Homo sapiens: one gene and its partner. Changing the gene in region 1 together with any one later gene gives a genetic interaction. Each region holds a gene or a part of one and is shown on either strand. Other genes may lie near its edges.

Region 1 (7,096 bases):
TCCTATGCCCCAAACTCAACCTCCCACTCCTCTCACTACCAGCAAGTAATAAAAAACCTGGTTATGAAGCTCCTTCTATATGCATGACACTGTGCTAGTCTCCCATCCTCATCTCCAAAGAGGAAACTAAACTGAAAATCTAAAACTAAACTGTGTGATCATTTCCAATAAAACGGCTAATCGTAGCAAGGACTAGGGTAGCATTATGATGGCAAAAAAGTCCTTAAAATTTCTCAAGTGTTACTCCAATATCTATATTTAACTTGTTCTGTGCCTAATCATTCAGAACTTAGCAGAGGATTTTCAAGTAGGCCAGGTCATTTGTTAGGATAAAATCCTCTACTCTGTCCTTAAAGCATGTCCACATCTGTTCAAGTAACAAAACCATACCTTATTTTCCACAGGGTCATGATCTAGGGCATAAACCATTCCCATCTGCTGGCTGAGCAGAGTTCCATAGTCTGTTCCATCAAAATGCATGTGTCGAATATCTTGAGAATTGGCAAACAGCAAAAATGGTTGTGGTCCTGTTAACCAAATTTCAAATATGGCTGAATTTAAAACGTGCCTTAGAAACTAAGAGGCATCTCTGACTCTTCCCTTTCACTGTACCTTTTTACCCAATTTCTACAGTACTTGTTTTCTTAATTTCCCTCTAGTGTGGTATAGGTGAAGACAGGCAAGAGGATGTCCTCTTCCAGGAGGTGACATATTGCCAGAATTTCATCTCTGGTTTCTTCCCTCTCCAGGTATTTGCTTTTAAAAGCTGCTTACTTACAGAAAGAGACAGCGTTAAATAACCAACACCATAGCTAAATGATGCAAGTCTTAGGGTTATACATCTTCTTGATTCACACATACTGAAACACTAATATTAGTAGATTGTATACTTTCATGTCCGAATAAGTAACTTTCCCTGGCCTGGGCACTTCTTAAAGGGAGGCACAATGATTTGAGTTAATAGCAAGACCCTTGATAATTTTAAGGATTTAGATTACACTATATTAATGAAGGCCCTGAGAAGTTAACAGTATTGGGGTCTCACTAGGGCAAGGTATACAGGATCATCATTACATGATAGCATTATGAGCATTATATGTTTAAAACATAATGAACCTTCAGGAGATATTAAATCAATTTGGTATAAATCTAGAATTTCCATGGCTGTTGAAGGATGCAAGAGAGGTAATATCAGAAGACAAAAAAAATAGCTGAAGCGTACAACTTTATATTGAATTTTGACATTAAAAGGACAGAATTTGTCAGTGTTATAATTATATTCAGTAGAGAGATAAAAATCAAATCAATCAACAAATACTTATTAAATGCCTCTTAACTATAAAGTGTTTTAAGACTATTCTTGTCATGACTTTCTCATATACTAAAAATATTCTATCTGATATTATGGCAAATCTTTGCCGGATGCTAATTAAGAATAGAAATAGTCTTTAAAAGCCTGGTTACTAGTTATATTGTTATTACTCATATTATTCATATTTACAATGTGATTTGCTTTTTTTCCATTTCAAAAATACAAAACCATAAGCAGTTAACTTTCCATCTTTCTAAACAAAAGATTTTCATGAATTTTTTTTCAGGGACACAGTTCCAGACAACCACAGCACTAACCTGAAGCTGCACAGCTTTTTTCATCCAGTTGTAGGTCATACCCAGGAAAGCAATCACATTCCCAGGATACTGGGCTAAGAGGAACGCAGAGCTGGCTACATCCACCATTATCGGGTGAGGAACAACCTACAAAAACAATTGCTTAGTAATGATGCTACGTCATCCAAAATATAATTATTTTTCATCAAAGGATGGGGGCGAGTCAACCATTTGTTAATTTTTTTTTTTTTTTTTGAGATGGAGTTTCACTCTTTCACCCAGGCTGGAGTGCAATGGCACTCTCGGCTCATTGCAACCTCCGCCTCCCAAGTTCAAGCAATTCTCCTGCCTCAGCTTCCCAAGTAGCTGGGATTACAGGCACCCGCCACCATGCCTGGTTGATTTTTGTATTTTTAGTAGAGACGGGGTTTCACCATGTTGGCCAGGCTGGTCTCAAACTCCTGACCTCAGGAGATCTATCTGCCTCAGCCTCCCAAAATGCTAGGATTCCAGGCATGAGCCACTGCACTCAGCCCATATGTTGATTTTTTAAAACATTTCCACAATCATTCATATGGCTGCAATCAAGGTTATTTTTCAGAGATAAAAATCAAAATGTCACACTACCCTCCTTCCCTATAACCCAACATCTTGGATGTTAATCCTTCACATTCCAGTGGCCCTTGTCCTCTTATTCTACCAATGAGTTCAGGAGCAAGTGCACTGGCAGCTGTCTAGAATGAAAAATCCATTTGATGAGTTTGGCAGCTGGTCTAACTCTTCCTAGTAATTTTTTTCTCTCACACATTTTTAGCTGCTTGGCTTTGTTTTATTAGAAAATCAAAAACACACACACAATTCTTCTGCTAATTCTGAGTTACATCCAGTTATCTATATACTTAAGTCTCTATGAAGATAAAAGTAGAGAGGTGTTTATTAGGTGCAAGAAACAGACTAAGCACTCTGCATCTGAAGTCTCATTTAATCAAGGTGGCAAGTATCAGTATCTCTGCAGTTGAAGAAACAAAGACCAAGAGAGGGCAAGTATCTAGACCAAAATCAAAACTGCTAGTAACTGGTAATGCTACCTCAGGGCTGTCAAGCCTCAAAGCCCTTGCTCATAAGTTAGACGCTATGCTGTCTAAACAAAAACAAAAAAGCCAAAAACCCAAAAATACTAAATTTAAATCTATGTTAATCTGTTGTAACAATATCTTTCAGTATACAATATTGGAAAATCAATTCTTCCTTGACAACAAGATCAATTTTTAGATGTCACTGAGCAAATGTATGTTTTCAAACAAACAAAAGGTAAATAAAGCAAATAAACTCACCGCTACATGTTTTCCCATCTCTCTCAAGCACTGAGCCTTCAGGACAGAAACATAAGGGACCTTCTGATGTCAGAACACAGTCATGGCTGCATTCAGACACATTGCGTGGACAGGAAACAAGTTCTAATTAATAAAGAACAAGGTCAAGATTAGTGTTAAATCGGGTTTGCAAAAATTTATTGCAATCAGTTGCTAATATTGCCAGGTGATCCTCCTGCCTTGACCTCCCAAAGTGTTGGGATTACAGGTGTGAGCCACTGTGCCTAGCCTTAATTTTTTAATGCATAACAATGGTATTGTGGTTATGCCTGAAAATTAACTGGATATTAAATGATAGGAAGGAATTATAGTTAAGTTTTTTAGATACAATAATGTATCATGATTATGTTTTTTACATGCCTATCCTTTAGAGATATACAATGAAATGTAGTACCCAATAGTTATTTTTAAAAATTAAAAAATTAAAATAAAAAAGAGATAGACAATGAAATATAAGGTAATACAGACAAAGAAACAGGAAAATACCTATAATACATAGATTATAGATGATTTGTTTCCCAACCTGAGAGGTTCTGATTTGATAGGTCTGGGGTAGAGTCCAGTCATCCATGGTTTTTGTTTTGTTTTGCTTTTTGAGACAGGGTCTCACTCCATCACCCAGGAAGGGCAGTGGCTTGATTTCGGCTCACTGCAGCCTCCTCCTCCTGGTTCAAGTGATCCTTCTGCCTCAGCCTCCTCAGTAGCTGGGACCACTGGCATGGGCCAACATGCCTGGCTAAGTTTTTTTTTTTTTTGTATTTTTAGTAGAGATAGGGTCTCACCATGTTGCCCAGGCTGGCAGTCATCCATGTTTTAAAAAGCCAAACAAAATAAAACTCAAAGGTAATTATGATGCACACTGCTGATTGAAGATCACCAACCCAGATCATAGCCACCTTAGAAACATATTGAAAATGAAGAAAACTAATGCAATAAATACTTGTTGCTATAACTTACGATGACATCGTTTCCCATCAGGAAGCAGAACAAATCCTACAGGGCACGTGCAGTAATAGGATCCAGGGGTGTTTTTACACCCAAGAGTACAGCCATGATTCCAAAAAGCACATTCATTAACATCTGCACAATGACAACAGCACAATACATTCAAATGGCTATTTTTGAAAATAAATTGTGCTATCACTAATAAGTCATCACAACGCAGGGTATCTCACACTTGTATATGCTGTAATTGATCATGGAAAGTCTGTTTTCCATACTCTAGCAAAGGGTAAAATAAGTCAATTAAATGATGATAAAAGCCATTTCTATTCTGTCACATTTTATGCTTTTGTTTTCCCCGAGATAGAGTCTGGCTCTGTCACCCAGGCTGGAGTGCAATGCCACGATCTCAGCTCACTGCAACCTCTGCTTCCCAAGCTCAAGTGATCCTCCCACCTCAGCCTCCTGAGTAGCTGGGACTACAGGTGCACACCACAACACTCAGCTAATTTTTGTATATTTTGTAGACATGGGGTTTTGCTACATTGCTCAGGCTGATCTTGAACTCTGGGACTCAAGTGATCTGCCCGCCTTGGCTTCCCAAAGTGCCGAGATTACAAGTGTGAGTCACCACGCCTGGCCCAGCTTATACTTTCAAATACAGATTTTCATATTAGAATAACCCTTGGGAAAAAGGTAGTATTATTTCCCTTGAAAAGATATAGCATGCCATTTCAGTTAGGGACTCTTGAAAGCTCTTTACAAGCTTAGGACATTTCCTATTGTGCTCTTCAACCTTCAAGACTGACCAGAGCCCTTTCCCTAAATGTGGAAACCTTCTCCAGCAGTTTTATTCTGGCTGAAGCCCCAGCCTTCCAGCTCACTATCTCTATGCCATGGCTTTCACCCATTGGTCCCATGTAAGCAGGGGGTTATAATTAACAGGCAGATGCTAGATTTACCTGAGGTCTCACCCCAGCTAATTCCACTGTATGTGTGCTGCAGCCATTGGATTCTTTTCATCACTAAACTACTGCACCTTCCAGGAAAAAGGACATAGTATTTCTCCTGAGTTCGTTGCACTTGGTCCAGAATCTCAAAACAGGAGGATTCTTAGACAAACCAGCCTGGCTCAGTTTCCCAGGCTTCCTACTAGATCTTCTTGGGATAAGATAGGAGTCACAGACTCTTTGAGACTCTTACGATCCCTATGAAACCACTCCCCTAAAAATGTACACATACTGAAATTTTGCACACAAACGCAGAGGTTGGTAGAATCCACTTAGAGAATCCCTGCCTTATATCAACCCCTAAGCATCCTCTCAGTGTTTGATCTAGAAACACAAGATATGAAGATAGGAAAGTATTATAAAGGTTTTACAAACAAGAAAAAATAAATAAAAAATAGTCTTCAGGGGTTGTGTGGGGGACGGGGAGAATGGACTTGAAGTTGGTTTTCCACTGAGTCTCTGGCTGGCCCACTGAAGACAAGCCGCTGGCTCAGTTGAGCATTCCTCCCCTCAAGCAGCGACTCTTCCATTACCTTCACAGTACTTCCAGTCATTACCTTCACAGTACTTCCGGTCTCGACTTAGGGCGTATCCCTCTGCACACATGCACAAGTGTGACTGGAGGTCTTGCCCACACACAGTGCTGCTGCAGTTTCCTTTCCTCAATTTGCAAAGTTTCTGCTCTAAAAGAGAAGATGCTTTATTTGGAGTGGGGCCGTGTTTTGACAGAGGACACTGCTAAATCTTTTCCTGATTCTTAAGAGGTCTTACCTCCCTACAACGTCTACAGCTGCATCTCTCACGGAGGCAAACTTAGCCAGAGCCCAGATTCCCCAGCATCCCGAAGCCCACTTTTTTCTCCAATTGTATTACTTCTCCAAAACCTCTCAGGATTGGGCATCCTGATTAGCTGGAGATGTCATTTCTTAGGTTGCGAATACTAAACACTACTTATTAGCTTTTTCATTCTAATGTACTTTTATCACAAAAAAGCACACATTCTGCAAATGAAATAATCTGCTTAGGAAATGAAAACAGATTCAAACCTAAGAATACTTTTTTTTTTTTTTTTTTTTTGAGACAGGGTCTCCCCCTGTCACCCAGGCTGGAGTGCAGTGGCACAATCTTGGCTCACTGCAACCTCAGCCTTCTGTGTTCAAGCGATTCTCCTGCCTTGGCCTCCTAAGTAGCTGGGATTACAGGTGCACACCACCACACCTGGCTAATTTTTGTATTTTTAGTAGAGACGGGGTTGGCCAGGCTGGTCTCGAACTCCTACCTCAAGTGATCTGCCCACCTCAGCCTCCCAAAGTGTTGGGATTATAGGCATGAGCCACTGTGCCTGGCCAAGAATACTTTTTAAGTGTAATATTTATAGGTTAGATATGTAAGCTATTTAGCTGTTTTTAACATCATTATTTAATGAACATCTTTCAGACTCAATATATACCATTGCCATATCTCTGCTCCTCAAATTTCTGTAGTTATTGCTGCCAGTGTCCCACGTGTTCCAAATATTCCATAATAAACAGTAAAATCTGCTCAGCGAGTTGGGTGTTTGGGTTGAATTAGCCAGCTATATTGAATAAGTGGTCAATTTTGTACCATTGGGATTTTCAGAGCCAGAATCAAGGGCTAAACTAGTAACACCTACAGTTGGCCCTCCATATCTGTGGATTCAACCAACTTAGGACTGAAAATATTTGGGAAAAAAAATTCCACAAAGCAAAGTTCCAAAAAGCAAAACATGAATTTGCCACATGCCAAGCACTATGTTGAATTCACAGGAATGAAGTGATGTAGGCATTGTATTAGGTATTATAAGTAATTTGGAGATGATTTAAAGTATATGGGAGGATGTGGCTAGGTTATATACAAATACACCGTTTTATATTAGAACTTAAGCATCTGCAGATTTGGGTATCTTGGGGGATACCAATCCCCCACGGATACTGGGGGACAACTGCATATCTCTTTCCAAAAAGTTAATGAGATTTTTGTCTCTTTTGCACCTTATTTTTTGCCCATTTTAAAAACAATAGCACCATTGTAAAATACTATGAGAAATACAGTAGCAAGCTTGAGCGTAAGGGCAGATACCTAGAATGCAGGTAGATACAGAGGCCAGAGGCCTGGCAAGAGGTGAAGGCCAAGGAAAACTAT
Region 2 (7,064 bases), on another chromosome or scaffold:
CAGGCAATGTGACATAGGCTAAACACTAAATGAGTGATTTGTTTCCCAAATTACACTGGATTAATTCACACACTTCAAGATAAGATACTATTATGGAATGATTTTTATATATACATTCAACCAACATTTCCTAAGGGCCCACTATATGCCAAGCAACCCGCTTAGCACTTTTCCAACAGTGTCTCATTCAATTCTCACATTTTATAGATTAAAGATGTGAATCTGAAAGGGTGAAGTGACTTGCCGATGTCTACATATTAAGCTGCAGAGACGGGATTTAGAATCATGTCTTCCAACTCCATGTCCTTTCATGGGACGTTTTTTGCTTTTTCATTCATCCTATGGAATACAATAAAGTGTTCTGCACAAATGAGCCACCACCAACTGCCAGCCTGATATAACTAGATGCTTATCTACATTCTGAGACGGGACCATATCAGATCAAATTACTCTGGTGCCTATTATAGATCATGTGCTGAAAGAAGTGCAGTTGGCTGAAGATGAGCAACTCTTTCAAGTTATATTTTAACAGTGTTTTTGACCACTATATCCGGTCAGTTGTTCCAGTGTTCAGTAATAAATCAAAATGATTGTTCGTTTCCTTTGACAGTTAACAGTACTAATGAATTCAGTATAATCTCACCATCCATCAGAAAAATTTCTAAAATGCGAACTTGAAGCTGATGATTCACACAGTTAGAAGAGAGGGGGAAATAAAGCAGTACTCATTGTTTTCTACAAAACTAGCATTGTTTGCAAAATCCAGAAACCAAGCAGTTGGTTAACTACTAATAACAAGCAGGTTGCTCCTTGGTCATTTAGCAAAAAGCTGCTTGTTGCACCACAGTCGATGGCTGAGAAGCATATGACTTCAAGTAGCTTTTGCTGTACAGTAGGATTCCATACATATAAATCAGTGGATCGTTATGTAAGACAAGAAAAAAATTCAAAATCTTCACACCAGAAAGCACCTGACACTGAGTGTGGCACAAATCCGAATAAATGTATACTGAGTAAACCATGTCAGGGTCTTTTGAAAATATCAGTTGTCTATGAAATTGAGAGAAGAAAAACCAAATCACCTGAATTCATACAGGTTATGTTAGGAACTCAAAAATATGGAACAGCTGGCTCAAGATGTATAACAGATTCACAATGACCAAAAAAACAATGTTTACAAATGTTGAATTAAGAAGCATGAATTTGACATCTCTCTTGAATTAAGTCACCACACTGGCACCCAATGGAATGCTTATAGGCAATCTCAGTAGAAATAACAAAAACTGAAAGAACTGACGGACAGAGCTAACTTTCCAATCTGTTCAAAACAGAAACAAGATGTACTAGTGGACACCTGAATCCTGCCGTTTAAGCTTTTGTGCCTTCACAATTAAATAATAACCCGGCCGGGCACGGTGGCTCACGCCTGTAATCCCAGCACTTTGGGAGGCCGAGGCGGGCGGATCACTTGAGGTCGGGAGTTCGCGACCAGCCTGACCAACGTGGAGAGGACCGCCCCCCCCACCCCGCCCCCACAAAAAATACAAAATTAGCCGGGCATGGTGGCGCATGCCTGTAATCCTAGCTACTCCGGAGGCTGAGGCAGGAGAATCGCTTGAACCCGGGAGGCGGAGGCTGCGGTGAGCCGAGATCATGCCACTGCACTCCAGCCTGAGCAACAAGAGCGAAACTCTGTCTGAAAAAAAAAAAAAAAAATCCCAATATGCCAAAGCAGCTCTGTCAAAAACCTTCAACGCTCACAAACATATCTAGTAATAACGAACGACTCATTAAAATGTACTATCTGTTCAGAGAAAAAAGTATTAATATATCTACAATACGAGACTGGGCTCCAAGAATATAAATCCAAATTGTACTGATTGGTCTGAATAAGCATTTTCCAAAATGAACAACCTGAACCTACACCACGAATACATTTAATTAGTTATAAAGCTTAGGACAACGCTAGTGATCTCAAACATTAGAACGTAAGCGCTGAAGCCTGCTCGTTAGTTCCTTTTACCTGGAGCTTTAAATTTCTAAAGCCATCATCTCCAGGGACCTCTGAAGGAAATTCAAGGCCAAGTATAGTATTTCATGATAAGTGAGAATAAAGGCACTCAATCCCTGGAGCCGGCGATTCCTGTTCCTGTCTCTAGACTGGACTCGGTAAAAGCCCGAGGCGAAACCTCCCGTTTATCTCCTACAGGACCCCAGCACCTTAGGGGATGGCTCCACAGAGCCCCACCGGGACCCCCCATCGCGGGGACCAGAGGGGCGGAGGAGGGAGACACTCTCCAAAACAAAGCGCCGCTCGCCCCACGCGGAGGCAGGCGCACCTTTCGCCCTGACAGGACGCAGACACACGTGTGTCACCTGTGCGGGAAGGGGGAGCAGCGACATCCTCGGAGGTGCGTGCCACGGGCAGCGGTCGGCGGCTGCGCTGGCCCCGATGCCTGGTGCCCGCCGCTCATTCCCGGGCTGGGGAAAACTTTCGGCCGCCTCCCCCAAGGCGCGCCCCCACCTCCCGGGACCCCCGGGGCACGCGCCCCGACCGCGACGCCCCGCCCCAGGCCCGCCCCTCCGCGCCCACGGCTGCGGCCCCGCGCCCCCAGCCCCGCGCGGGCACCCGCGTGCCCTCAGGCGCGCCCCCGCGCCGGGCCCGGCCGGCAGAGGGCGGGGTCGCTCACCAGTCCGCAGCTCGTGCTTGACAGTGAGGAGCTGCTCTCCTCCGTCGCCGCCGTCCGCGCTGGTCCCCGCGGCGCCGCCGCTGCTGCCACCCTCCTCCTCCATCTTCTCCTTTTTTTCCGATCCCGCGGGTCGCTACGAGGGGAACCCAGGAGACAGCGGACGCCCGTCCCCTCGCAGCCGCTGCCGCGGCCCCAGGAGTCGGGGTGCGGCGGCTCCAGAACTCGGACGCAAAGACGAGTCTCTTTCCCGCTCTGGCCGCACGGCTCGCTCCTCGCCTCCTCCCCCTTCGGCGGGCACCGCTAGTACCGCGCAACCAAACCGCCCCCTGCTCCACCGCCGCCTCCTCAGGCCGCTCCGCCCACAGCCAGCAAGGTAAGGGAGCCATTCGAGCCGCCTTCGCTGATTGGACACAGGGCGCGCGCGTCTGCCAACGCCGGTTCCCATTGGGCAGTACGCTGTGACGTTTCACGAGCCTCCCCGCCTCGCTCCTCGAATTGTTGTTGCTTGGCGGGGAGGCAGGAGAGGGAGGAGCGCCGCCACTCCGATTGGTGAGACCCAAAGCTCTGCCCCGCCCATTTCCTCTGGTGCGCACTCGCAGTCAAGACCTTCCCTTCCCTGACCTCCCCAGAACGGTCACACCCCTTATTCCCCAGCTTCGATCTGTTAGTAAACAGTGTCTAGTAGTCAGGAGGCGCTCGGGGTCTCTGATTGGCTACTGCCGAAAGAGGCGGGGAGGGATGATTGGAACGTTTGGTCCGCCAATCACCGTGGACAGAGGAGGGGCCTGGAGGGTAGCGCTTATCACCCACGTGTTTGCAGACAAACCTAAGGGTCCCGGCAGCGATCCATGCGTGTGTGACAACCAGCGAGACGGCGTGCCCTAAAAAGGTCTTACTCGCTCTAGTGAACCCTAAACAAGTTAAGCAGAGTGTTTGTTCTTAAATAACAGATAGTTCTTAAACGTTACAAAAATTCACAGTCCCAGCTCCCGATGAGGAATTTTACGAAGGAGAGACATTTCTGTTTCGTACAAGACTCTTACTAGGCGCCGAAAGGATGCAGAGATTAACAAAATAGAATACAATTCCTCCCCTAAGCAGCTTTCAATAGAACGTGAGAAACAATCTGTGTGTGTACACAAAAGAACTATAAAGCAGAATTTGAAATAAAGCAGTCGTACAAAGCGTTAGAGAATCTCGCACGGATGGCAATAATTATTCCCAGACGAGGAACTGGGGAAAGCTTTTAGGGCAAGGAGGCATTTGAGATAACCAACGTAAAGGATGGATAAGAGAGAAATACCAGCAATAGACATTCCACACAGAGAGAGTAACTGTGAGCATTGGCCTACAGCAGAGAAGGCAAGGGTGGGTTAAGTGATTGATAAGGTTAGATGAAAGTATGATGTAAGAGATACAGCTGACAAGGTGAGGTGTGGTAAGATAATGGGGAACTAGGGATGCTGTGCTGAAGAGTGCAGATTTTTTTTAGTACACAGTGATGAACTGAAAAGAGGAGAGAGATAGCAGGGCAGGAATCCTGCTGCAAGGATAGAACTAAAGGGAACCTGATTTCTAGTAGCAGACACGAGAATGGGAAAAAGCAGAAACTTAAAGATGTACAGTTGGACGTAATTCAGATAGATGTGATCTTTTAAACTAAGCATGGATTGGATCAGGAGTCAGCACACTTTTTTCTATTAAGGGCCAGATAGTAAATATTTTAGGATTTGCAAGCTGTATGACCTTTTTCACAACTACTCAGCTCTGCCATTGTAGCGCAAAAGCAGTCATAGACAATAAATAAAAGAAGTAGCTGTGTTCCAATAGAATATTTTTTATGGACATTGAAATTTGAATTTCACATAGTTTTCATGTATCGTAATATATTCTTCTTTTAATTATTTTTGAATCACTTAAAAATATAAAAACAGGTCAGGCGCAGTGGTTCACACCTGTAAGCCCAGCACTGTGGGAGGCTGAGGCAGATGGATCACCTGAGGTCAGGAGTTCAAGACCAGCCTGGCCAACATGGCAAAACCCTGAATCTACTAAAAATACAAAAAATTAGCCAGGCATGGTGGTGGGCGCCTGTAATCCCAGCTACTCAGGAAGCTGAGGCAGGAGAATTGCTTGAATCTGGCAGGCGGAGGTTGCAGTAAGCCGAGATCACACCATTGCACTTCAGCCTGGGCAACAGAGCGAGACTCTGTCTAAAAAAAAAAAAATATATATATATATATATATATATATATATATATATATATATATATATATATAAACAATCCTTAGCTCAAGGGCAGTTAAAAAACAGGCAATGAGCCAGATTTGGCCTACAGGCCATAGTTTGCAGACTCCTGGATTCGACTGCTGTGAAAGACAAAACACAGAAGCCTTGCAAGTTCCTTCAGGTTGCTTTCACAGCTCCCTGGGCTTACCTGCCTGGAACATTTATCATCACACTAAACCATGACTGCCTACTTACTTGTCTTTCTCCTGCAAAAGTCATGTGCTATTTGGAGCCAGGCAATGACTGTGTGCAACTGTTCATTTGTTCACTCGAAAACTTTTATACCAGTTATATACCAAGTACTGTAATAGGTGCTAGAGACACAGTGGGAGCAAAACAGATGCAGTCCTTGCTCCTATAGAGCCTACAGTCTAGCAACAGATATAAATATTAATCACATAAAGAAATATAAACTTTCCATTGTGATCATGCTGTAAAGGAAAATTACAGGGTGCTACAATAGAATGTATCAGGGATGCCTAATTTAAGTTGGAGGAGCTGGAAGACCTTTGTAAGTAAGTATTATTTAAGCTGAGACTTTAAAAATGAGTAGGTTTTAACCAGGATGTGGCAAAAAGTAGCCTGATGTTCACCAATCTCATTTCCTCTTCCTAGACACACAGGAAGACTTTTTTTTTTTTTTTCTTACCTCCTTTGCAGTTAGGTTAGGGTCATATGACTATGATCTGGCCAATGGGGTATGGGCAGATCCTATTGGTATGATATATAACATTTTCAGGCCTGACCAGAAAACTCCTTGCATAATCACTCACACTCTTCTCTTTCAACTGCTGTAACAAAGGCCACATTTTTAATGTGGGTATGCCACAGACTGGGAGGACTCTGAACCCCTGAGTTTCCACTTAATTCTTTAAGGAGCCACCTGACCTATGTCAGACTGTGATGTGAGCAATACATACACCGTTTTAGGCATAAGCTAGTTAGATGGGATTATTTGCTACCAAAGCATAATCTAGCCTTATACTACTTCATATGTGTAATATGGAGGGATCAAAATTTTAGGAAGATGTCCTGAGGCAGGCAAAGAGCCTATTCGGTTGAGAGATTGAGAAAGGCAGTGGAGCCTTAATGCAGTAAGCAAGGGATGAGGTTCAGGAGGTGGGCAGAGGCCCGGTCAGGAAGTATGTGGTTGCTCTTATTAATATTTTTGGACTTTATCCTGTGTGAAGTGGGAAGCAGTAGAAGGAATTTAAACACAGGAATGATATAATCGTGGTAGTATTTTCAGAAGGTCACTGAAGTTAGTGTTTGGAGACTGCGCTGGAGAAGGCAAAATGGGATACAAGGAGACCAGTTAGGAGGCTATCACTGTAATCTGGGCAAAAGATGAGAGTGGGTGCAGTAGAGATGGAGAGAAATGGAACATTTCTATGTTTATATTTTGAACTTGAAGGATTAGACTTGGTTAGTGAGAAAAATGGAAATATCTGAAATGACACCAGTGTTTCTAGCGTGAGCAGCTAGTGGCTGGAAGAGGATGGCAGTACCATTTAATAATGAAAGGGACAAATTAAAGGAAGAGCACATATGAGAGAGAACATCAAGAGTTTAATTTTGAGACATCCAGGGCCAAAATTAAGTAGCTATGTGGATATATGAGTCTAGAGCTCTGAAGAGAGGTCTAGCATAGGGATGTAAGCTTAGGAATCACTGGCACATAGATGACATTTGAGGCCAGAGGTACGAATGAGATTACCTAGGGAGAAGCCTGGGTGCGGTGGATCATGCCTGTAATCTCAGCACTTTGGGACGCTGAGATGGGCAGATCGCTTGAATTCAAGACCAGCCTGGTCAACAAGGTGAAACCCTATCTCTACTAAAAATACAAAAATTAGCTGGGCATGGTGGTGCATGCCTATAATCCAAGCTACTCGGGAGGCTGAGGCAGGAAAATCACTGGAACCCAGGAGGCAGAGGTTGCAGTGAGCTGAGATCGCATCACTGCACTCCAGCCTGGGTGACACAGTCAGACTCTGTCTCAAAAAAAAAAAAAAAAAAAAAGAAAAGAAAAGTTGGAATAAGAAGGTGGAGCTAGAGGTAGAAAAGGAAAACCTGGAGAGTTT

Evidence for each region. A genetic interaction does not mean that the proteins touch.
Region 2: of EGF (region 1) and RPS6KA5, changing one enhances a phenotype caused by changing the other (phenotypic enhancement), as found in Homo sapiens cells (one study listed by BioGRID).

The regions. Positions count from the first base shown.
Region 1 is NC_000004.12:109,957,832-109,964,927, reverse strand, and holds part of EGF (pro-epidermal growth factor isoform 1 preproprotein), read right to left. Parts: intron 5,617-7,096; coding exon 5,491-5,616; intron 4,062-5,490; coding exon 3,939-4,061; intron 3,066-3,938; coding exon 2,943-3,065; intron 1,756-2,942; coding exon 1,630-1,755; intron 528-1,629; coding exon 391-527; intron 1-390.
Region 2 is NC_000014.9:91,057,642-91,064,705, forward strand, and holds the start of RPS6KA5 (ribosomal protein S6 kinase alpha-5), read right to left. Parts: upstream 3,001-7,064; 5' UTR 2,794-3,000; coding exon 2,691-2,793; intron 2,484-2,690; exon of another isoform or gene 2,377-2,483; intron 1-2,376. UniProt on the Homo sapiens protein: Serine/threonine-protein kinase that is required for the mitogen or stress-induced phosphorylation of the transcription factors CREB1 and ATF1 and for the regulation of the transcription factors RELA, STAT3 and ETV1/ER81, and that contributes to gene activation by histone phosphorylation and functions in the regulation of inflammatory genes.